Linked DNA regions of Homo sapiens. The protein of the gene in region 2 binds, or shares a complex with, the protein of the main gene of each other region. Each region holds a gene or a part of one and is shown on either strand. Other genes may lie near its edges. The genes, in order: RHOA and ANLN.

What was found.
Region 1: the proteins of ANLN (region 2) and RHOA are in contact, whole or in part, in a crystal structure (PDB 4XOI), measured with the Homo sapiens proteins. Residues at the interface, in NP_061155.2 of Homo sapiens: Met729, Thr732, Val733, Tyr735, Gln736, Ala737, Gln739, Ala740, Cys743, Cys744, Glu748, His749, Gly750, Ser753, Glu755, Glu758, Ala759, Leu762; in NP_001300870.1 of Homo sapiens: Tyr34, Val35, Pro36, Thr37, Val38, Phe39, Glu40, Asn41, Trp58, Asp65, Tyr66, Arg68, Leu69, Pro71, Leu72, Pro75, Asp76.

The regions. Positions count from the first base shown.
Region 1 is NC_000003.12:49,373,698-49,386,051, forward strand, and holds part of RHOA (transforming protein RhoA isoform 1 precursor), read right to left. Parts: intron 1,895-12,354; 5' UTR 1,893-1,894; coding exon 1,737-1,892; intron 1-1,736. UniProt on the Homo sapiens protein: Small GTPase which cycles between an active GTP-bound and an inactive GDP-bound state.
Region 2 is NC_000007.14:36,382,378-36,394,685, reverse strand, and holds the start of ANLN (anillin), read right to left. Parts: upstream 4,825-12,308; 5' UTR 4,720-4,824; coding exon of another isoform or gene 4,660-4,719; coding exon 4,642-4,659; coding exon of another isoform or gene 4,612-4,641; exon of another isoform or gene 4,329-4,611; intron 1-4,328. UniProt on the Homo sapiens protein: Required for cytokinesis. Essential for the structural integrity of the cleavage furrow and for completion of cleavage furrow ingression. Plays a role in bleb assembly during metaphase and anaphase of mitosis.

The DNA.
Region 1 (12,354 bases), on a different chromosome or scaffold from region 2:
GGAGGCTGAGGTGGAAGGATCACTTGAGCCCAAGAGTTCAAGGCTGCATGATCATGTCACAGCACTGCAGGCCTGGGAGACAAAGTACAATCCCTGTCTCTTTATTTAAGAGAAAAAAAAAAAAGTATGAGAGGCCAAGCAAAGCATTACTTAGACAACAAAAGGAAGCAGAAGATTAAAAAAAAAAACAAAAACAAACCAAAACCAAAATTAAAACCCAAAAAAACCCTCCAATTTCACAAGAGCTTTGTTCCAGTCTTGCCAGAGGGCTTTTAGGACAGAAATGGGGAAGCACTGTTCTCACCATCAATGACAATAAAATAAAACAACTGTGGCAGGCTATTTTATGTTAAAGTAAAAAAAAATCTTTTGGCCGGGCACAGTGGCTCATGCCTGTAATCCCAGCACTTTGGGAGGCCGAGACGGGCAGATCACAAGATCAGGAGATCGAGACCATCCTGGCTAACACGGTGAAACCCCGTCTCTACTAAAAATACAAAAAATTAGCCAGTCTGGTGGTGGACACCTGTAGTCCCAGCTACTTGGGAGGATGAGGCAGGAGAACAGCGTGAACCCAGGAGGCAGAGCTTGAACTAGTAATCTAATACTGGGACATCTGATTAAATACTTTGACAGAATTTTTGTCAAAGTCCAAGCATACAAAGAAGTTCATCTGAGCATTATCTATATGGCAATGAACTAAACTTCAAATATACGTAAACTTGAAAAGAGCACATATGGCTGGGCAAGGTGGCTCACGCCTGTAATCCCAGCACTTTGGGAGGCTGAGGCAGGTGGATCATCTGAGGTCAGGAGCTTGAGACCAGCCTGGCCAACATGGCAAAATTGCATCTTTACAAAATACAAGTATTAGCCAGGCATGGCGGCGTGCGCCTGTAATCCCAGCTACTCTACTCTGGAGGCTGAGGCAAAAGAATTGCTTGAACCCGGGAGGTGGAGGTTGCAGCGAGCTGAGATTGTACCACTGCACTCCAGCCTGGGCGACAGAGCGAGACTCTGTCTCAAACAACAAAACAAAACAAAAAAAAAACACATATGCTAAGGACACCATGTCAAATACATATGAATGTAAACAAAGTCTGGATGAGTAGCAGTTAAAAATGAAAAAACAGCCAATCACCTGCGGTCAGGAGTTCATGACCAGCCTGGCCAACGTAGTGAAACCCCATTTCTACTAAAAATACAAAAATCAGCCAGGTGTGGTGGCATATTCCCGTAATCCCAGCTACTGGGGAGGCTGAGGCAGGAGAATCCTTTAAACCTGGGGGAAGGCTGGGCACAGTGGCTCACTCCTGTAATCCCAGCACTTTGGGAGGCTGAGGTGGGTGGATCACCCGAGGTCAGAAGTTTGAGACCAGCCTGGTGAAACCCCATCTCTACTAAACGAAAAATGAGCTCAGCATGGTGGCAACATGCCTGTAATCCCTGCTATTTGGGAGGCTGAGGCAGGAGAATCACTTGAACCTGGGAGGCAGAGGTTGCAGTGAGCCAAGACCGAGCCACTGCACTCTAGCCTGGGCAACAGAATGAGACTCCGTCTCCAAAAAAAAAAAAAGAACAAACTTGGACTAAGATGGCAGGATGAGAATGGATTCTTCTTTCCAACATTTTTGTTATATGGTATACTGAAGAGGCAAAAAGCTCTAATTCTCTACATGCTCCATAAATATTCTAACATGGAAAATGGCATCAGTTGTTATGAAAAGTATACTCACCTGCTTTCCATCCACCTCGATATCTGCCACATAGTTCTCAAACACTGTGGGCACATACACCTCTGGGAACTGGTCCTTGCTGAAGACTATGAGCAAGCATGTCTTTCCACAGGCTCCATCACCAACAATCACCAGTTTCTTCCGGATGGCAGCCATTGCTGAAACACAAAACACAGATATTACCTGCAATGCACAAGAAGTCATAGGTAGCTTACAGGATGACACATGCTTTGGTAACCATGGGGCATAAACCTCTATTAGCATACTCAAATTCAAACTTCTAGTACGCCGATCCACCTGGCACCAAAAGGTTATACATTAAAAACTCGTAACTAACATTATACTTAATGGTAAAAGACTGAAAAAAAGGTCTGCCCCCTAAGATCAGGAACAAGACAAGAATGTCTGTTCTTGCCACTTCTTTTTTTTTTTGAGACGGAGTCTCACTCTGTCGCCCAGGCTGGAGTGCACTGGCCCAATCTCAGTTCACTGCAACCTCCAGCCTCCCGGGTTCAAGCAATTCTCCTGCCTCAGACTCCCAAGTAGCTGGGATTACAGGCACGTACCACCACATCCAGCTAATTTTTGATAGAGATGGGGTTTCACCTTGTTGGCCAGGCTGGTCTTGAACTCCTGACCTCAGGTGATCCACCTGCCTCAGCCTCCCAAAGTGCTGGGATTACAGGCGTGAGCCACCACGCCTGGCCTGTTCTTGCTACTTCTATCCAGCAGGATACTGGAGGTCCTAGCCAGGGCAATAAGGTAAGAAAATGAAATAAAAGACATCCAAATTGGAAAGGAAGAAGTAAAACTATCTCAATTCACACATGAGATGATTTTGTAATGTGGGAAATCCTAAAGAAAACTTTTAGAATAAACAAGTTCAGTAAGGTTGCAGGATACAATATTAACATTAAAAAATCAATTGAGCCAGGCGCAGTGGCTCACGCCTATAATCCCAGCACTTTGGGAGGCCGAGGCGGGTGGATCACGAGGTCAGGAGATCGAGACCATCCTGGCTAACACGGAGAAACCCCATCTCTACTAAAAATACAAATAACTAGCCGGGCATGGTGGCAGGCACCTGTAGTCCCAGCTACTTGGGAGGCTGAGGCAGGAGAATGGCGTGAACCCAGGAGACAGAGCTTGCAGTGAGCCAAGATCGGGCCACTGCACACCAGCCTGGGGGACAGAGTAAGACTCCATCTCACAAAAAAAAAAAAAAAAAAAAAGGAAACAATTTGTCAAGCAGGGTAAAAACAATGAAAGGACTGATGAAAGGGAGTACCCAAGGGAGGAAAGAACCAAAAAAGTCATCGGCAGGTTGTTTGGGTAGACATTCTGCAATCTTTCTAAGTTTGGATATTCCTTCTTTTACCAATCTAGATTTGTTTGTAAAGAAACAGCATTCTTGGCTGGGCGCGGTGGCTCACGCCTATAATCCCAGCATTTTGGGAGGCCGAGGCAGGCAGATCACCTGAGGTCAGGAGTTTGAGACCAGCCTGGCCAACATGGAGAAACCCCATCTCTACCAAAAATACAAAATTAGCCAGGCGTGGTGGCACATGCCTATAATCCTAGCTACACAGGAGCAAGAGGCAGGAGAATCGCTTGAACCCGGGAGGCAGAGGTTGTGGTGAGCCGAGATCATGCCATTGCACTCCAGCCTGGGCAACAAGAGCGAAACTCCGTCTCAAAAAAGAAAAATCAATTGAGGCCGAGCACAGTGGTTCATGTCTGTAATCCCAACACTTTGGGAGACTGAAGCAGGAGGAATGCTCAGGCCCAGGAGTTAAGAGACCAGCCCTGACAACATAGTGAGACACTGAGAAAGGAAGGACGGACGGAAGCATGAGAGGGGAGGGGAGAAAGAAAAGGGCCGGGCGCAGTGGCTCACGCCTATAATCCCAGCAATCTGGGAGGCCGAAACAGGTGGACTGCTTGAGAGTCCAGGAGTTCAAGACGAGCCTGGGAAACATAGTGAAACCCTGTCTCTACTAAAAATACAAAAAATTAGCCAGGAGCGGTGGTGCATGCTAATCACAGTTACTTGGGAGGCTCAGGTGGGATAATCCCCTGAGCCCTGGAGGTGGAAGCTGCAGTGAGCTGAGATTGCATCACTACACTCCAGCCTGGGGAACCCCAGTGAGACACTGTCTCTAAAAAAAGAAGGAAAAGAAAAAAAAAAAAATCAGCCAGTTGTGGTAGCATGCACCTGTAGTCCCAGCTACCAAGGAGGCTGAGGTGGGAGGATTGCTTGAGCCCAGGAGGTGGAGGATGTGGTGAGCTATGATTGCATCACTGCACTCCAGCCTGGGTGACAGAGTGGAACCTTGTCTCAAACTCTTATGACTCAACTACAAAAAAGCAGCTTAGGTTGGTGGTCTGGCTCAGGATCTCTTGCAAGGTTGAAATCATAAAGAACTCTTTTTGGGCTGGGCACGGTAGCTCACACCTGTAATCCCAGCACTTTGGGAGGCTGAGGCAAGCAGAACACTTGAGGTCAGGAGTTCGAGACCAGCCTGACCAACCCAGCAAAACCCCGTTTCTACAAAAAATTCAAAACTTAGCCGGGTGTGGTGGTGGGCACCTGTAATCCCAGTTACTCGGGAGACTGAGGCAGGAGAATCGCTTGAACCCAGGAGGCAGAAGTTGCAGTGAGCCCAGATTGTACCACTGCACTCCAGCCTGGGCAACAGAGCACTCCAGCCTGGGCAACAGAGTGAAACTGTGTCTTAAAAAAAAAAAAAAAAAAAAAGAGAGAACTCCTTCTGACATGAAGTACGCTATTTATCTATCCATCTATCTTTTTTTTTTTTTTTTTTTTTTTTGAGATGAGGTCTCACTCTGTCACCCAGGCTGGAATGCAGTGGCGTGATCTTGGCTCAATGCAATCTCCACCTCCGAGGCTCAAGTGATCCTCCCACTTCAAATTCCCCAGCAGCTGGGACCACAGGCATGCGCCACCACGCCCAGCTAATTTTTGTATTTTTGGCAGAGACAGGGTTTTGCCATGTTTCCCAGGCTGGTCTCCAACTCCTGAGCTCAAGTGATCTACTCGCCTCGGCCTCCCACAGTGCTGAGGGATTACAGGCGTGAGCCACTGCCCATCTATCTACGCATCTATCCAATCTATGTACCTATCTAACCTATCTATGTGTTTCTCTATTATGTAGTTATTTTCAGAAAGGGTCTCATTCTGTCACCAAGGCTGGAATGCAGTGGTGCAATATTGGCTCACTGCAGCCTCTGCCTCCCAGGCTCAACTCAAGCGATCCTCCCACCTCAACCTCTCCAGTAGCTGGGACTACCAGGCTCCTGCCACCACAGCTGACTAATTTTTATACAGATAGCGTTTCACTATATTACCCAGGCTGGTCTCAAACTCCTGGGCTCATGCAATCCTCCCGATTCAGCCTCCCAAAGTGCTGGGATTACAAGCATAAGCCACCTCCCCAGGCCTAAATACAGTATATAGAAAAAATTAAAAAATAAAGAACTCTTACAATTCAATAATAAAAAGACAAATAATCTAATCCAATTAAAAAATGAGCAAAGGATGTGAGTAGGTATGACCCTGCAATTCTATTCCTAGGTATATATCTAAGAGAAACAAAAACATATGTCCACATAACAACTTGTACCTCTACATGAATATTCATAGCAGGATTATTCATAATATATTGTCAAAAAATGTAAAGAACCCAAATATCCAACAACTGATGAATATAATATATCCATACAATGGAATGGAATATTATTCAGCGATAAAGGATAAAGTACTGATATATGCTATAGTATGGATAGATCTTGGAAATGTTATATAAGTGAAAGAACCCAGTCACAAAAACCAACATGCATGATTCCATTTATATAAAATTGTCCAGAATAAACAAATTCAGAAAGAGAAAATAGACTGGTAGTTGCCTAGGGCAGGGACTTGGGGGTGGAGAGAAATGGAAAATGACTAATGGAATACTGGAGTTTCTCAGGTAAAAAGATTTTTCCAAAATTATTGTGGTGATGGCTGCACAACTCTATGAATATACTATAAACTATTGATTATAGTATATATAATTCACACATTTTATTTATTTTGAGACAGGGTCTCACTCTGTTGCCCAGGCTGGAGTATAGTGGTGCGATCTCCACTCACTGCAACCTTAGCCTCCCCAGGCTCAAGTGAACCTCCAATCTCAGTCTCCCAAGTAGCTGGAACTAAAGGTGCATGCCACCACACCCGGCTAATTTTTTGTATTTTTAGTAGTGACCGGGTTTCACCACGTTGCCCCAGCTGCTCTCAAACTCCTGAGGTCAAGCGATCCTCCTGCCTGTCTCTCCCAGTGTGTTGGGATTACAGGCGTGAGCCACCGCACCCAGCCCACAGTATATATAATTCACACTTTAAAAAGGTGAATTGTAAGATATGTGGATTATATTTCAATAAAGCTGTTACCACCACTCTCGCCCCCAGTGGGGGGAAAAAAGAGAGAAATCTGCAGATTCCTTCCATCTGGCAGACAGTGATGGTCAACCATCCCAATTCCCGCCCTTCCCTCCTAGACCATACTTCGATTTTTAGCTATGTACTTTGTTGTAGACTACACTTCCTAGCTTCCCTTGGAGACATGGCCATGTACCATGAGATGTGAGAATCAGCAGTATGTTGTGGGACTTCCAGAAAGTCTTTCTTAAAGGGAAGTCTTTATTATCCTCCTCCTTTCCTGCTGCTTAAATCTAAAGTAAGGGCTGGTTTCTAAGCAGCCATCCTGGTATGTGAGAATGAATGCCATACCGTGGGGCTGGAAGAACCAAAAGGTAAAAAGGAGCCTGGATCTCAGGTGATCTTGGGAGCCACCATCTCAGCCCCAAGACTGCCTACCTTCCATGTTTCTTCCATATGAATGAGAAATAAATGACTGTCTTATTTAAGGTGGTATTTTTCAAGTCTCTGTTACCTATAGTCAAACTAATCCTAAATTATATACACTCAGCTGGGCATGGTGATTCACGCCTGTAATCCCAGCACACTGGGAGGCCGAGGCGGGCAGATCACGAGGTCAGGAGTTTGAGACCAGCCTGGCCAACATATGAAACCCCATCTCTATTAAAAATATTAAAATTACCCAGGCGTGGTGGGGTGAGGCAAGAGAATCGCTTGAACCTGGGAGGTGGAGGTTGCAGTGAGCCAAGATCATGCCACTGCACTCCAGCCTGGGTGACAGAGACTCTTGTCTCAAAAATAATAATAATAATAATAATAATAATAATAATAATAATAATAATAAATACTCATTATCAAAACTATATTGTCTAAAGGGTATGTTCCCCAACCAGAATGGATAAGACAATCCACAGGGGTACCAGAAGAAAACTCAGAGGGCAAACAACGACAAAAATAAACAATGAAAACAAAACAAAAAAACTCAGAGGGCTGACAGTGCTGCCATTACTCATTTGTGAATTCTCAGGACAATATTACATACAGCAGTGAATACGTGTGTGTGTATATATATAGATACAGATATTATAGAATTTTATCCAAATCTACAAAATCTAGTAACTTTTTTTTTTTTTGCAAAAAGGGAGTAAATTGAAGATACTACTAATCATGAAAGCACAATAAGAAGCATATCGATGATAGGGAAATGTGCTCAATGCATATCTTCAAACAAGAGCATGCAGTCAAGGCTAGGAGTAATGGCTCATGCCTGTAATGCCAGCACTTTGGGAGGCTGAGGTAGGCGGATCACTTGAGGTCCAGAGTTCAAGACCAGCCTGGCCAACATTGTGAAACCCCGTCTCTACAAAAAATATAAAAATAAGTTGGACGTAGTGGCATGTACCCATAATCCCGGCTACTCGAGAGGCTGAGGCAGGAGAATCTCCTGAACTCAGGAGGCAGAGGCTGCAGTAAGCCGATATCTCGCCATTGCATTCCAGCCTGGGAAACAAGAGAAAAACCCCGTCTCAAAAAAAAAAAAAAAGTTAGCTGGGTTGGTGGCAGGCACCTGTAACCCCTGAAAGGCTACTCAGGATGCTGAGGCATGAGAATCACTTGAATTAGGCAGGCGGAGGTTGCAGTGAGCTGAGAACGCGCCACTGCACTCCAGCCTGGGCAACACAGTGAGACTCTGTCAAAAAAAAAAAAGGATTGGCATGGTGGCTCACGCCTGTAATCCCAGCACTTTGGGAGGCCGAGGCCTGTGGATCACGATGTCAGGAGTTCGAGACCAGCCTGACCAACATGGTGAAACCCCATCTCTACTAAAAATAGAAAAATTAGCCGGGCATGGTGGTCCGCACCTGTAATCTCAGCTACTCAGGAGGCTGAGGCAGGAGAATCACTTGAACCCGGGAGGAGGAAGTTGCAGTGAGCTGAGATCGTGCCACTGCACTCCAGTTTAGGCAACAAGAGCGAAAATTCGTCTCAAAAAAAAAAAAGACAGAGAGTGAAGTTCCCCAGTTAGAGTCAAGTGTGGCAACTCATGCCTGTAATCCCATCTACTCAGGAGGCTGAGGTGGGAAGACAGCTAGAGTCCAGAGTTTGAGACCAGCTTGGGCAAAATAGCAAGACCCTATCTCATAAAAATAAAAAAATATTGGCCGGGCATGGTGGCTCACACCTGTAATCCCAGCACTTTGGGAGGCTGAGGTGGGCAGATCACGAGGTAAGGAGATCGAGACCATCCTGGCTAACATAGTGAAATCCCGTCTCTACTAAAAATACAAAAAATTAGCCAGGCGTCGTGAAGGGCGCCTGTAGTTCCAGCTACTCAGGAGGCTGAGGCATGAGAATGGGGTGAACCCAGGAGGTGGAGCTTGCAGTGAGCTAAGATCGTGCCACTGCACTCCAGCCTGGGTGACAGAGAGAGACTCCGTCTCAAAAATAAATAAATAAATAAAATAAAAAAATAGACACTGGGCGTGGTGGCTCACACCTGTAATCCCAGCACTTTGGGAAGCCAAGGCAGGCAAATTGCTTGAGCCTAAGAGTTGGAGACCATCCTAAACAACACAGTGAAACCCCATCTCTACCCAAAATACAAAAAATTAGCTGGCTGTGGTGGTGCGCATCTGTGGTCACAGCTACTCAGGAGGCTAAGATGGGAGGATCACTTGAGTACAGGAGGCAGAGGTTGCAGTGAGCTGAAATCATGCCACTACACTCCAGCCTGAGTGACACAGTAAGACCCTGTCTCACCAAATAAAGATTTAATAAACTTTACATCTCTCATAAGGCCTAATCTGCATGGGCTTTTGCCCAAAGTCAAACAACCAGGACCCTATGGGATGCAAAGAAACGTCAACAGGAATTCCCCAGTTCAAGAAAAGGCTGCTTTGGCCGAGTGTGCTGGGGTTCATGCCTGCAATCCCAGTACTTTGAGAGGTGGGTGGATCACCTGAGGTCAGGAGTTCGAGACAAGCCTGACCAACATGGTGTAACCCCATATCCACTAAAAATACAAAAATTAGGTGGGCGTGGTGGTGGGCACCTGTAATCCCAACTACTGAGATGCTGAGGCAGGAGAATCACTTGAACACAGGAGGCAAAGGTTGCAGTGAGCCGAGTTAGCGCCATTGCACTCCAGCCTGGGCGACAAGAGCAAAACTCCATCGTATCAGAAAAAAAAAAAGAAAAAGAAAAAGAAAAGGCTGCCACCTTTGCGTAGCACCCTACCTAGAAGACATTCAATTCTTGAGAAATAATCTCTTTCGGCCAGGTGTGGTGGCTCACGCCTGTAATTCCAGCACTTTGGGAGGCCGAGGCGGGCAGATCACGAGGTCAGGAGATCGAGACCATCCCGGCTAACATTTCTACTAAAAATACAAAAAATTAGCCGGGCATGGTGGCAGGCGCCTGTAGTCCCAGCTACTCGGGAGGCTGAGGCAGGAGAATGGCGTGAACCCGGAAGGTGGAGCTTGCAGTGAGCTGAGATCACACCACTGCACTCCAGCCTGGTCTATAGAGCGAGAATCCATCTCAAAAAAAAAAAAAAAGAGCTATCTTTGCTTTGTTTATAGTTCAACATGCCCACAATATTTGTTCCAGTATTGACTTAAATCTTCTGTTATGGTTTGAAAAGTTTCCTTATAGATGGGGAATAAATCATTGCCTGTCCTTGGGCCCTCTCCAGCCCCACCTTCCCCTCTGCACTTTCAGCCTGCACTCCATTCCTTCCGGGTGCTCTGGTGTGTCTGAGATTACTGCATGTGTCTTCTATTCTGTTTGTGCCTTCCCTTCCTAGAATGTCCAGACTCTGTCTCCACCTTTGCTTATAGGGAGGGAATTCACGTTTAAAGACCCTAGTCCAGCCAGGCACGGTGGCTCACGCCCATAATCCCAGCACTTTGGGAGGCTGAGGTAGGCGGATCACTTGAGGTCAGGAGTTCGAGACCAGCCTGGCAAACATGGCAAAACCCCGTCTCTACTGAAAATACAAAAATTAGCCGGGCATGGTGGCATCTGCCTGTAATCCCAGCTACTTGGAAGGCTGAGGCACGAGAATCACTTGAACCTGGGAGGTGGAGGTTGCAGTGAGCCGAGATTGCACTACTGCATTACAGCCTGGGCGGCAGAGTGAGACTGTGTCTCAGAAAAAAGAAAGAAAAGAAAAAGAAAAATATCTGATAAAGAACATTTGGCCCAGAAAAAGAATAAAATCATTTAGCCACTAATGGTGACAAAGACAAAAATTACAAGTGATTATCGGACAAAATGAAAGCCTAAGTGATTTCTGGGATACTGGGAGTGCGGCAATACACAGAAGTTGAGAAGTAAAAAGTACAAGCACAGAAAATCAAACTTGCTGTTTTCTCCTTGAAAAACGCAGGAGAAATTTTGCAGAATTATCTCTCCTTTCCACTTTGCTATAATGCAGCATTCTTTACAAGTACATGGTTTGTCAAGAAAGGAAATCACGCTTAGCTCTCCCAGACGTGTCATTTTCCAGGCTAGGTTTAGTCTCAGAAATAACTTATAAGTTTGGAGTAGAGGTTTATTTAACCAAAAGTCAGTTATATCTAATTAAGTCACCAGTAACAATACACAAATAACAGTATTTCTTTTACAACTTTTAATTTTTTTTTTTTGAGACAGGGTCTCACTGTCATCCAGGCTGGAGTGAGGTGGTGTTATCATGGCTTACCACAACCTTGACCTCCCAGGCTCAGGTAATCCTCCCACTTCAGTCTCCCAAGTAGCTAGGAGTACAGGCACACACACCACGCCCAGCTAATTTTTGTGTTTTTTTTGTAAAGATGGAGTTTCACCATGTTGCCCAGGATGGTCTTAAACTCCTGGGCTCAAGTGATGCCCCCACTTTCTAAAAATTTAATTATCTTGGCTGGGTGCAGTGGCTCACGCCTGTAATCCAAGTACTTTGGGAGGCTCAGATGGGCAGATCACTTGAGGTCAGGAGTTCGAAACCAGCAGCCTGGCCAACATGGTGAAACCATTCTCTACTATGAACACAAAAATTAGCCTAGCGTGGTGGCAGGCACCTGTAATCCCAGCTACTCGGGAGGCTGAGGCAGGAGAATTGTTTGAACCTGGGAGGCGGAGGTTGCAGTGAGCTGAGATGGCACCACTGCACTCCAGTCTGGGTGACAGCAAGACTGTCTCGGGGGAAAAACAAATTTAATTATCTTTTATGTAGAGACAGGGTCTTGCTGTGTTGCCCTGGCTAGTCTCAAACTCCTAGCCTCAAGTGATTCTCCCGTGTTGGCTCCCTAAGTGTTGGGACTACAGGGGTGAGCCACTGCGCCTGGTCCATTGCCCCCCTACCTTTTTTTTTTTTTTTCTGAGACAGAGTCTTACTCTGTCGCCCAGGCTGGAGTGCAGTGGCGCGATCTTGGCTCACTGCAACCTCCGCCTCCCAGGTTCAAGCAATTCTCCTGCCTCAGCCTCCCAAATAGCTGGGAGGCGTCTGCCACCACGCCTGGCTAATTTTTTTATTTTTAGTAGAGACGGGGTTTTACCATGTTGACCAGGCTGGTCTCAAACTCCTGACCTCAGGTGATCCACTTGCCTCGGCCTCCCAAAGTGCTAGGATTACAGCAATGAGCCACCGCACCCAGCCCCCATTGCCCATTTTTAAACTCAGTTGTTTTTTTTATTTTTTTGATGATGCCCTTTGGGGCACAACGTTTTTTATTTTGTTGAAGTCAAATTTATCTATTTTTCCCTTTGGTTACTGATGGTTTGGTGGCATATCTAAAATACCACAGCCAAATTCAAGGTCGTAAAAAAAATATATATGCTTCTTTCTATAGTTTTAAGTCTTACACTTTAGGCCTTTGATTCATTTTGAGTTAATTTTCATACATGATATGAGGTAAGGGGTCCAACTTCATTCTTTTTCATTTGGAAATCTAGTCACCTCAGCATTATTTACTGAAAAGACTATTTTCCCCCCAACTGGATGGTCCTGGCACACTTGAGAAATCAACTAATTAGCAACTGAGGGTTTACTTTGGATTAATCCTATTCCATTGGTCTATATTGTCCACCTTTATACTAGTACCACAGTCTTGATTACTGTTGCTTTGCAGTAAGTTTTAAAATCTGGAGGTGTGAGTCCTCCAGCTTTGTTTTTTTCCAAGATTATTTTGGTTA
Region 2 (12,308 bases):
GTAAAAGAAATATGAGCTAAATTTGAAAGAAGGCACACTCTCTACTCTTCTTAAGAATGATTTCTAATTTAAAGTTCATTGAAAAAAGTGACACTAAATTGAAATGCTCTAATCACTGAAAAAATAATTTATGAACCAAATGGCTTCCAAAATACAAGACCTTCACCCGCTAAATAAAAGTCCTTCAACAAATTCAAGAATAAGCATATTGTTTCACAAATCCATATATGTCCGATAATTTCCCCCCATGATACAATATGAGAACTAAAAATAAAATACTAATCCTCCCAACCAACTGAACAGATCCCCTCTTGATGAAGGGGACCCCAGAGAAACCTTAAAAACCGAGTTCTCAGCCATGATGGAACAGGAGGCCGCATGCACCTTGTTATACCCCTCCTTTTGCTGTTTAAACACAATAACTGATGAGCATTAATGTTAAATAGAGATCATAAGACTGACAGAAGACTCTTTGTAGCAATAAGATATCAAATTATAAACAGGATCAAGCCTAGGCAACAAAGCAAGATCCTGTCTCTGCAAAACATACAAAAGTTAGCCAGGCATGGTGGGGCACATCTGTAGTCCCAGCTACCTGGGGGGTGGGGTGGCTGAAGCAAAAGGATTACTTCAGCCCAGGAGTTCAAGGCTGCAGTGAGCTGTGATCGCTACTGCACTCCAGCCTGGGTAACAGAGTGAGACCCTGTCTGTAAACAAATAACTAGGACCTAAGGCCATGCCAGGCAAGGGTTAAGTCACAAACTCCCTACACTTAAAAAATAAACTATCTTCTAACTGCCAAAGTTTTTCTTTTACTCTAGTAGCTGAACAAGCACTGACCTTGAGATAAGCAATAAATATTAAAACAATTGCAGCTCATCTTCCATCAGACACTGACTAACCCTCCTGCTCCACAAGCTACAGCTACAGCTTTAATTGGACAAGAGATTGATTTCAATAAATCTATCTCAGTAAGAAGACCACCAACCATGAACTGATTCTGGCCAGTTTACAGAGGCTGCTCACTTGAATGCCTTCATGTCCCCACCTCACCTTTTGACATATAGGGCCCAACTGTAATGTATTTCCACGTTAAGTCTTCATCCCAAAGTGAACATGGGATGCATGTAACTGCACGTTTGTTCAGTACCCACCCATCAGGACCCCTTTGTAAATACTCATAGCTCTGCCTATAACCTGTTGAATATGTATACCTGGCTAACCCTTTAGGCATAAATCCCTGTTCCAGCTTCTCCTCTCTTGAAGTGCCTGTTTCCAGTCTCTGCCCGAAGCTATTAAATATGTTTCCCAGCCTGTCAGGATGGCCACACTGTAGGCTGTAAGCCTTTATAAGAAAGTCTCTGCTGGGCACAGTGGCTCATGCTTGTAATTCCAGCACTTTGGGAGGCCAAGGCAGGCGGATCACTTGAGGCTAGGAATTTGAGACCAGCTTGGCAAACACGGTGAAACCCCATCTCTACTAAAAATACAAAAATTAGCCAGTTATGGTGGTGCATGCCTGTAGTCCCAGCTACTTGGGAGGCTGAGGCAGGTGAATCACTTGAACCTGGGAGGCAGAAGTGACACCGAGCCAAGATCGCACCATTGAGCTCCAGTCTGGGCGAGAACGAGACTCTGACTCAAAAAAAAAAACGAAAAAAGAAAAAAGAAATAATGTCTCCTTTCTAAATTAATAAATTTGTAATTTTTCAATTGCTATATCTCTCACTTCCCAGATACAACACTAGCCTAATTATATTCATTCGTGGACATGCCCACATTCCATTCTGGTCAGTTAGAACATTTGTGAGTCAGTACAGCTTCAGTTACCATGAGCAGTAGGTCACAACAAAAGAATGTGATTTTGTCATTCAAACGTATATGAATGTTCTATTGCTTACATTAGATTCAAAAATTCCCAGATTAAAAAAAAATTAAATAGATACACAAAAAAAGATCCCTAATCTGTGAAGTAAAGCTATAAACACCAAAGGTTATTAAATTAAAAGAAATTATATATCTTAAATATATAAACTCAATAGCTCAATAAATGTAAGTAGCCGTTCCTTATAATAGTATATCAGGAATTTTAAAACTCTTTTAAATACAAGGTATATTCCTTGAAATATCACACCTTTCTCAAACAGTGTAGGCATTAAAAAAAAAAAAAAACCACTGCAATAACATATTCAAGAAGTAGGATAGCCCACATGTATGAATCTCAGGTAACTGAAGCTTATAGTCCCTGAACAACTTTTGCCACATACACCCCAAAGTCATCTCTGACAAATTTTTCTAGGAGATTTTACTAATTTCCTTGCCTTCTTTAACACAGTAGACTCAATATAAATTAACTTCTTATTATTTTCAATATGCTCTAGCAGCTCTTCCCCAGGGAACTTCATTTAATTCTGGAAAATAAGAGAAATTCCACTAAAAATGGTAGTGGCATGTTTATTTGCATACTTATTTATATGCAGCCTGCAGACATAAAAGGATCTAAAGCGTCTACAATAAAATATGCTTCTGTGAAGTATTTTAATTATAGCTTTTTCTCTTTTAAGGTTTTTATAAAGAAAGTTCTGGATTGGTACACTTCACTCTGGGTTTCTTTGTAGTATTCTTGTACTGGGATGACTATCACCTGTGAGTAGAGCTTCAAACTCTTGACGTTATGAGTAGTGAGTTTATGGTTTTGTCACCTGGGCGACACTGCGAGACTCCGTCTTAAAAAAAAAAAGAGTGCCAGAACAGTATCAGCGACCACAGGGAGGAAGACCAATGCAGAACAGTCTTGTTTGAGGAAAAGAGAGTTTACCATGATTGTAACCTTTCTCAACTGGAGTTACCAAAATAATTAAGCCCTAATACGCTGGCGTTAATATGATAGACTTATTTCCTATGTTTGTAGGGTGGCATTGAATTATCCTTGGGAGAATTGAGAAAATAGTCTCTCAATTTTCCTGTGTACCATGGTTCTGAGAGGAAACCCTGGTTGAGAGAGTCATTTTATACTGACTTTCAGTTGATAGACAACTGTACCAGTAGCTCATTTCACTGTGCAAATGTTATGAATGCTATAATTAAGCACCCAAGAGTTGGAATCAATTCAAGTAGTTCATTCATTACCTATTAAGGAAAAGACGTCTAAGCTGTTTTTCCAACTGCAAGTGATCTAACTTTTCATAATATAAACCATACATATTTCTGAGCACATCCTAAAACGATCTAAACAGGTAAAGTTTCTTTCAGTTGAGATTTGTACTACCTTCAGAATGACATTTTTAAGTAAAATGAAGTGCAATTTTCAGCCAACTTAAAAATGCTTTGTTCCTGTCTGTTACTTAGGAAGACACATAGGGCTAATGTTTTAAGGAATCGTATTCTAGTTTAGATAAAATAAATACACGCTTTTCGACCTCAGTGTAAGTGAAAGATACTTGGTGCATGACCAGCCCTATTTTAAGGCTAATACAAAAATAGGCTCTAGATTTTTCTATTAGAACCTTTAAGGAAGGTGAAAAAAATTGATGTATTTGTCCCAAGATGATTAAGAATTTGAAACAGAAAAATAGATTATGTCATGCTTGAATATAAGTAAACTCTAATTGCTGAAATCTGTAATTAATATCTCATACATAACTTATAGAATTATAATTACATCTCCCCGAAAGAATTACCACTCTTCACAGCATTTAAGTTTTTGAATCAGTGTAAACAGTTTTAGGTCCACTTTGCAACACTCAAAAACTAACAGTTTGAAATTTGCACAACAGCCTAAAGAAAGAGGAACTGTCCTGGAATAAAAGAGAGTGGACAACTGGCAACAAAACACTCCTGAATGTGACAACGCACATTCTCCACAAAAGCTAAAACTAGAGAAATCGACACAATAACCATGTAACCCATATGCAATCTCAAAGGAACAAAAGATGAAATAAGTACTGTAATGATATGCCCCAGAAACACCGAAAAGTTTATTTCTTTGCTCTAAAATCGTGAGCTGATAGTTTTGCTCGGTACACTTGCATTGTTTCAATTAAAATGGTCAGTCCCGGGTATGAACTTCTTCGTTAGTTAGCTGAACAATGGGATCTCAAGGAACTACTGGCTTTTTATGAACGAATGCAGTGGTTTCTAGCACCTGCTTATTTTAACGTTTTGCTGTCATTTCATTAGCATCTCCCCTGCGGGCTGCGTGAACTCCGCAAATCACACATCCTACTGCCTTTCCCGGCGGCAGCCGCACTGAGTCACCGGCCCCGGACCCCGCCCTGCAGGGCATTCCAGCTGCTTCCAGCAGGACCCGTTCCGCAGGCCTGCGCCTCACTCTTGCTGCGCCAGGACTGCAGAGGGACATGGTAAAAACGGGGGCTGAAAGACCTCTCGCAACAGCCTTTTAGGACAGACTCAAAGCCTTCCTCCCTGAGTTTTATCTGTAGGACCGAAACAACAAAATCTCAGAGGAACCCACCAACCACAGCAGGCCGCAGCCGCGGCGACCCCGGCCCGCACACACTGCGCACGCGCGCACACACGCGCCCTCCGCCCGGTGGGGGTTCGCCCAGAGGTTGACAGAGGAAGGTGGGTGGGGGCCTAGAGCGGTGGGTCATGGCTGGCTGCACCCGCAAACTCACTCACCTCCGTAAACGGATCCATCGCCCCAGGCGTCGGACTACGAGACGATGGAAACGGTGGTTCAAATTCAGGAAGAGAAAAGTGAGTCTCAGCTCAGTGTGTCTCCTGGAAAAAACCAGGAGTCTGAGGCGGGGGAACTCTCCCACAACCAGCTGTCCTCTCCTCTCGGCTTCCAGTGACGGACTCGGCCTCTGCAGCCGTTCAAATTTGAATTTCAGCGCCGAGCCGCGAGCATGCGCGCTGGGCGGAGCCGGGGCGCCCTCTCCCCGCCCCTGCGCTCGGTCACGTGGCCGCGCCGGGCCGGGTGGTTCCCAGGGGCGGCCCCGCCTCCTTCCCGGCCCCCTCCCAGCCCTCGCCGCGGGGTGGAGGCGGGCAGCGGGGCGCTTCCTGCTCTCCAACGGCGTCGGGTTCCTGGCTCCACCCCCAACAACCACACATTCCCCTCAGCTTTAAGGCGATTGCTTCACACCAACCGCGTTTGGGTGTTCCCGCCTTCCTTCATTCCTAAATAAAGTATTAAGGCCGGGAGTAGTGGCGCATGCTTATAATCCCAGCATTTGGGGAGGCTGAGGCTGGAGGATCGCTTGAGCCCAGGAGGTCATGGCTGCAGTGAGCTGCGATCTCACTACTGCACTCCAGCCTGGGCGGCAGAGTGAGACCCTGCCTCAAAAAAGAAAAAAAAAGGATTAAGAGCCCTTGTGTTGGCAGGACATAATCCCAGCACTGTGGGAGGCCGAGGCGGGCAGATCACGAGGTCAGGAGTTCAAGACCAGCCTTGCCAACATGGTGAAACCCCGTCTCTACTAAAAATACAAAAAAATTAGATAGGCATGGTGGCGCGTGCCTCTAATCCCAGCTACTCGGGAGGCTGAGGCAGGAGAATTGCTTGAACTGGGACCCGGGAGGTGGAGGTTGCAGTGAGCAGAGATCACACCACTGCATTCCAGCCTGGGCTACAGAGCCAGACAAAGAGCCCTTGTGTTTCAGGTGCTGCTAGCCCGTTGGCCTTCAGTAGCTTTGTTTCCTAGGTCACACCCAACTCCTAGTCCCCAAAAGGGGGACTGCAGGCCTGGCCCTCAGAAAAGCCAGTTCCGGTGGGTCCCCGACACTCTAAGCCAATGAAATAAAGCTAAAATTAACAGACTGTGTGAAGCGTTCATGCACAATTTTTTATTTTAAATTCCATCCAACTGTGTACAGTGTTAGAGCGGGAGGAATTCTGACAAGCCCTCTATCTAGTTCAATCCTTCCTTTTACTGCCGAGAGAAGGGACACCCGAAAACGTTAAAGAAACTGGTCCAAAGAAATGAAAACCCTGTTCTCAGCTCATGACCCGTTTTCCACACTAGCTAAGGCTGTGTCTCCTGCTTATTCTTTGTAGAGTACTCCAAATTGTAAGATAGGTTACATAATTTCTGTATCAGATTCATTTCTTCTATAACAAGTCTGTGCAGGTAAAGATGACAGTTCTTGATTTGTTCATCTGAAAAGTTAAGAGTGACTGTCCATGAGCTGAACAAAACAGAACTATTCCTCCCAACTGAGTGGTTTCAATATGTTTAATAATATGTCCATCTTAGCAGTCAATCAACATTACAAAAAGAATTTACTAATATTTTTAATTTGAATTTTTGTATGATAAATTGTACGTGACTGAAATCACGGCAAGAGGTAAGGGAAATATTGCTTGGGGTCAGGGCTCCACCCAGTTAGCCAAATCGGTTAACCCATGGGTTTTTTTTTTTTTTAACCTTTGTGGGGAGTCATGGACTCCTTTGGAAATATGTTAAAACTGACCCTCTACCTAGAAAAATGACCATTTAATCATAAACTATTTAACAGGATTTTGTGAAGTTCATGGACACCAGGACAAGAACTTCTGATTTAGCCTGTTTGTATTTTAGTTTACTTATCTGTGTAACAGGAATAATCATCTGCCCTGATTTCCTCAGAGTTGTTAGGAGGGGCAGATGAAAAATGGAGAGACATAATCCAAAAATATTTCATAATAAGTAATAAGACACTGTCCGAGTGTGTAGTATATGGAATTATTAATATTTAACCCAGAATGTGTTACTTATGAACAAAGGAAAAAGATACTTCCATTTTTTTCAAGTGTGACAAGAAAGGTGTGTATGTATTTGGGGCGTGTCTGTGTGTGTATGCGTGTTTTAAACAACGTTGGAAAATGAGTCATTAGAAATTTATGTAGCCGTTGTGCCTTCTGGCTATCACTTCTATGAGCCTTAGTTTCTTTGTATCTACCTCAACTAGATTCTAGTTAAGACTAAAAGAGGTAAAGCACCTAGCATAAGATAGCTACTCACAACATTTAGTGTATCTTCCCTCACCATCCCACTATGTCTTTGGTTTCTACCTTGATAATGATGATGATAGTGATAATGGCAACCATCACAATTAAATAACTCCTAAGACTGAAACACCTACTATGTGCCAGAAACTACGGTAGATATTCAAGTCTACTCTCCTAGGGTATTACAATTGTCTCCTACTATACCTCCTTTCATTCTTAACCCCCGGTAGTTCATTCTTCAGTTTCTAGGCTAGAATGACTTTTATCTTTTTAAAAATTGTGTTATATAACAAATAAAAAAATTTGAAAACAAAAAAATTATGTTATGAAATACAATAAAAATGTGAATAATAAAACATAACCATATACCAGCCACCTAGCTTAAAAAAATACAAAACATCCCACATGTAATTGAAGTCTCCTGTGTGTCCCTTCCTATTCTCATTCATCTTCCCACTCTTCCAGGGTAAAACTATCTTGATTTGATGTTTATCATTCCCATAGAAATATGTATACTTTTATCACATCTACATATATATCCATAACAATATCTAGTGTTTTATATATAAATTTTATTTGCAGAATGTAAGTCTTTCTGCAACTTTTTCTGGCCCAATAATATCTTTATGGGATTTATCCTCACTAATAACTGTAGCTGCATTTCATTCATGTTCACTGCTAAATTTTATTATACAAATATACTTGTAATTTATGTACCCATTATCCTGTTAATGGACATTTAGCTTATTTCCAGTTTTTCATTCCAAAGACCCCATGATGCCATGACTATCCTTTATATGCACATGCAAAACTTTCTCTAGAGCAATATACCTAGGAATATTATTACCAGATATTAAAAATAAACTGCTCTTCAAAATGGTCATAACAAATGATACTCCAGTCAGTAGTATATGCCCCTGGCTGCTGCTCTAGTTCCTCCCCAATATGTGGATACATTTTAAATTTTGCCATTCTTGTTTGAGTGCCTTTCTCTTATCACTAGTGAAGGTGAACATGATTTTTTATTTATTGGACTTTCAATTTTCTTTTTCTGTGATTTTCAACTTTATATCCTTGCCCATTTTTCTGTGCAATTATTTGCCTTTTTCTTATGGATTTATAGGGTTTTTGTTGGTTGTTTACTATTTTCTGGGAAAATAAACTTGGTTGGTTTTTCGGCTTGCCAATTTTTTGGTTTGTGGCTTGTCTTTTTACTTTATGATGTTTCAGATGTACAGAAATGTTTAATATAACTAATGATACACACACACACACACACACACACATACACACATACACATACACATATACCATATATATTTTCCTTTAGGATTTGTGTTTTTTATGCCTTAAGAAATCCTTCCATACCCTGAGATAATAAAGATGTTCTGCTGTACTTTCTTCTAAATATTTTAAAGTATGGCTTTTCATGCTTTTGTCTTTAAACTATCTGGATTGATCTTGTTTTTTGTATGGATAACCAGTTGTCTTAGCAGCAGTTATTAAATTGTCCATCCTTTCTCTCATTGACCTGTAATGCCACTTTTATCATATATCAACTTTTCTTTTTTTTTTTCCCGAGACAGGGTCTCGCTCTTTCGCCAAGGCTGGAGTGCAGTGGCCTGATCTCGGCTGACTACAACCTCTGCCTCCCGGGTTCAAGCGATTCTCCTGCCTCAGCCTCCCAAGTAGCTGGGACAACAGGCATATGCCACCAAATCTGGCTAATTTTTGTGTTTTTAGTAGAGTTGGGGTTTCCCCATGTTGGCCAGGCTAGTCTCGAATTCCTGGCCACAAGTGATCCACCCAACTAGACCTCCCAAAGTGCTGGGATTATAGGCATGAGCCACTGCGCCTACCCAACAGTTCTTTCTTTATCTTATTTTATTTTATTTTATTTTATTTTATTTTATTTTATTTTATTTTATTTTATTTTATTTTATTTTTTGAAATAGGGTCTTGCTCTGTCACCCAGGCTGGAGTGCAGTGGCACGATCACAGCTCACTGCAGCTTCAAATTCCTGGCCTCAAGCAATCTTCCCATCTCAGCCTTCCAAGTATCTGGGACAACAGGTGCATGCCACCACAACCCGCTACTTTTTAAAATTTTTTGTAGAGACAGGATCTCACTTTGTTGCCCAGGCTGGTCTCCAACTCCTGGCCTCAAATGATCCTCCCACCTTGGCCTTCCAAAGTGCTGGAATTACAGGTGTAAGCCACTATGTTCAGCCTCAACTTTTTATGTACACATAGGTCTATGTCGGACTCTATTCTGTTCTACTGGTCTATCTATTCCTCTCCCAATATCACACTATATTAGTTATAAATGTTGATATCTGGTAGGGCAAATTCCAATTCAACTTGGATTATTTTGCCTCATTGTTCTTCCACATGAATTTTAGGGTCAGATTCTCAAGATCCAAAAAGAAAAGAAAAGAAAATCCTCTTCTGATTTTTAATTCAAATTGCACTGAATTTATCACATAATTTGGAGAGAATTCGCATCTTTGTGACAGCAATGCTACCCATTTATGAGCATGGTATATCTTCATTATACCTGCTAAAAATGTCTATAACAAACTTACATAAAGATCTGTAAACTTTTGTTAAATTTATTCCTACGTATCTTTGTTGTTGCTGATCTTTTTAGTTTTAGTAATTTATTTATAGAGAGGGATCTTTTTCAAATGTAAATTTTGCAGTGTCAATTCCTTGTTTGGAGCTGCTCTATGTCTTTCGTTGTAATTAAAATGATATCCAATAATATCCTTATCATACCTACAAGGCCATGCATGATCTGGAATCTACCTGCCTCTCCGAATAACCTAGTATTCTCCTAACATCACAATACTTTCCTTTTTTTTTTTTTCTTTTCACTATGCTCCAGCTTCAGGCCTTTTTTCTGGTCATAAAAAAATGCCAAATTTCTTCCTGCCTCAAGGACTTTCCACTGCCTGGACACTCTTCCTCTAGATTTAGCACGTCTGCTCCTCGTTATTTGGGCCTAAGCTTGCATGTGCTACCTCCTGAAAGAAGACTTCTTTGATCAGGTGGCCACCCCCGTCTTCTCTGCCCACCAATCACTTTCCATTCTATTACTCTGACTTCTTCATCACATTTGCCACTATCTGACATTATTTTAGTTATGTGTTTATGTTTATTAGCTAGGCCTTCCTACTACAGTGTAAGCTGTGGCAGTGCAGGGACTTGTTTATAGCTGTAACCCAGCACCTTCTGGCACATGAGTGCAGTAGATACTTGTTAAATAAATGAATATAAGCATAACTCTTATTCCTATTTTAGAGATGGGAAAACTGAGATGCATAGAGGCTAAGGGATTGGCCTAAATCATCAAAAGTGTCTTCCCTACTTATTTATATAAAACACAAAACTTCCCAAGTTATTTAAATAAAACCCACAACATAATACATTAATTTAAGAATAGAACCAAGAGTCTGAAGTAGAAATAACTAGAGATTAAAGATAGCCCTGGAAAATGAGTATTTGCTCCAAGACCTGTTCTTTTAAACAAAGGAAATAATAATTATGTCTTTTGCAGATAAAATTGCTGATAAAAAGGCTGAAAAACACAAAAATTTGAAAGCAGGGACTGCAACAAAGACCCTCCAAATGCTGTATATTTACAGTTAATTTTTCAAAATACAGTCACACACATTTGTATTTTATATTTTATACTATTTTTATACTTTTTAAAATACTATTTATATTTAATTTTAAAATTTTTAGACTATTTATACTTAATTCACAAAGTAATACAATAACACAAATCTTTTTATTTTTACAGGGAGAGAAAAGGCCAAGACCTAATCATAAGGCAGTGGCAAGAAGAGCTAAACTCAAGTTCTCTACCTCAGGTTATTTGGCTGAAGGGCCACTTCTTTTACACTTTTTAAAATTATTATTATACTTTAAGTTCTGGAGTACATGTGCAGAACGTGCAGGTTTGTTACATAGGCATACACGTGCCATGGTGGTTTGCTGAACCCATCAACCTGTCATCTATATTAGGTATTTCTCCTAATGCTATCCCTCCCCTAACTCTCCACCCCCCTACAGACCCTGGTGTGTGATGTTCCCCTCCCTGTGTCCATGCATTCTCATTGTTCAACTCCCACTTATGAGTGAGAACATGCGGTGTTTGGTTTTCTGTTCCTGTGTTAGTTTGCTGAGAATGATGGTTTCCAGCTTCATCCATGTCCCTGCAAAGGACACGAACTCATCCTTTTTTATGGCTGCATAGTATTCCATGCTGCATATGTGCCACATTTTCTTTATCTAGTCTATCATTGATGGGCATTTGGGTTGGTTCCAAGTCTTTGCTATTGTGAACAGTGCCGCAGTAAACATATGTGTGCATGTGTCTTTATAGTAGAATGATTTATAATCCTTTGGATATATACCCAGTAATGGTATTGCTGGGTCAAATGGTATTTCTAGTTCTACACATTTATTATAATGAAGAAACAACAACCATCAAAGGATGTTATCTATATGTTATTGAAAAGGGCTATTTTACTTGTTACTACTCTCTACTATTAATGATTAATGGTATTAATCTTTACTATTAATGATTCTTAGTGTCACATAGATTTTTTTTCTAGTTTAATTGATGAAGATGTTTCAGATTCCAGAGTGAGCATGAACATATTGTGCTTTCTGAACATATTATATTGTTTCCAAAAACCAGTGCAACTACAGGCATAAGTCCTTTATTCAATAGACTAATCTCAAAATGCATACAACTTTAATCTCCTTTTTATTTTCTCACGTGGTTAATAAGGATATTAAGATAATTCATATTTAAAGGACCACAGTAAATCCTTTCATAAAGAGTAAGAATTATTTTATGTACTTATCACACTATACTTTTTATATTGGTAACTTTTCTTTTCCATACCTAGATTTCTTAAAGCTATTTTTGGCTGGGCGTGGTGGCTCACGCCTGTAATCCCAGCACTTAGGGAGGCCAAGGCGGGTGGATCACGAGGTCAGGAGATCGAGACCATCCTGGCTAACACGGTGAAACCCTGTCTCTACTAAAAGTACAAAAAAATTAGCCGGGCCTGGTGGCAGGCACCTGTAGTCCCAGCTACTTGGAAGGCTGAGGCAGGAGAATGGTGTGAACCCGGGAGGCGGAGCTTGCAGTGAGCCGAGATCACGCCACTGCACTCCTGCCTGGACAACAAGGCGAGACTCCATCTCAAAACAAAAAAAAAAAAAAGCTATTTTTACAAAACTTAATTTTTTAGTGATATCATAGAAGTCACTCTTAAATATTACAGAAGTAACAGAAGCCAGTGTTTCCTAAATATCAGAGTCAATTTATTGAACATCA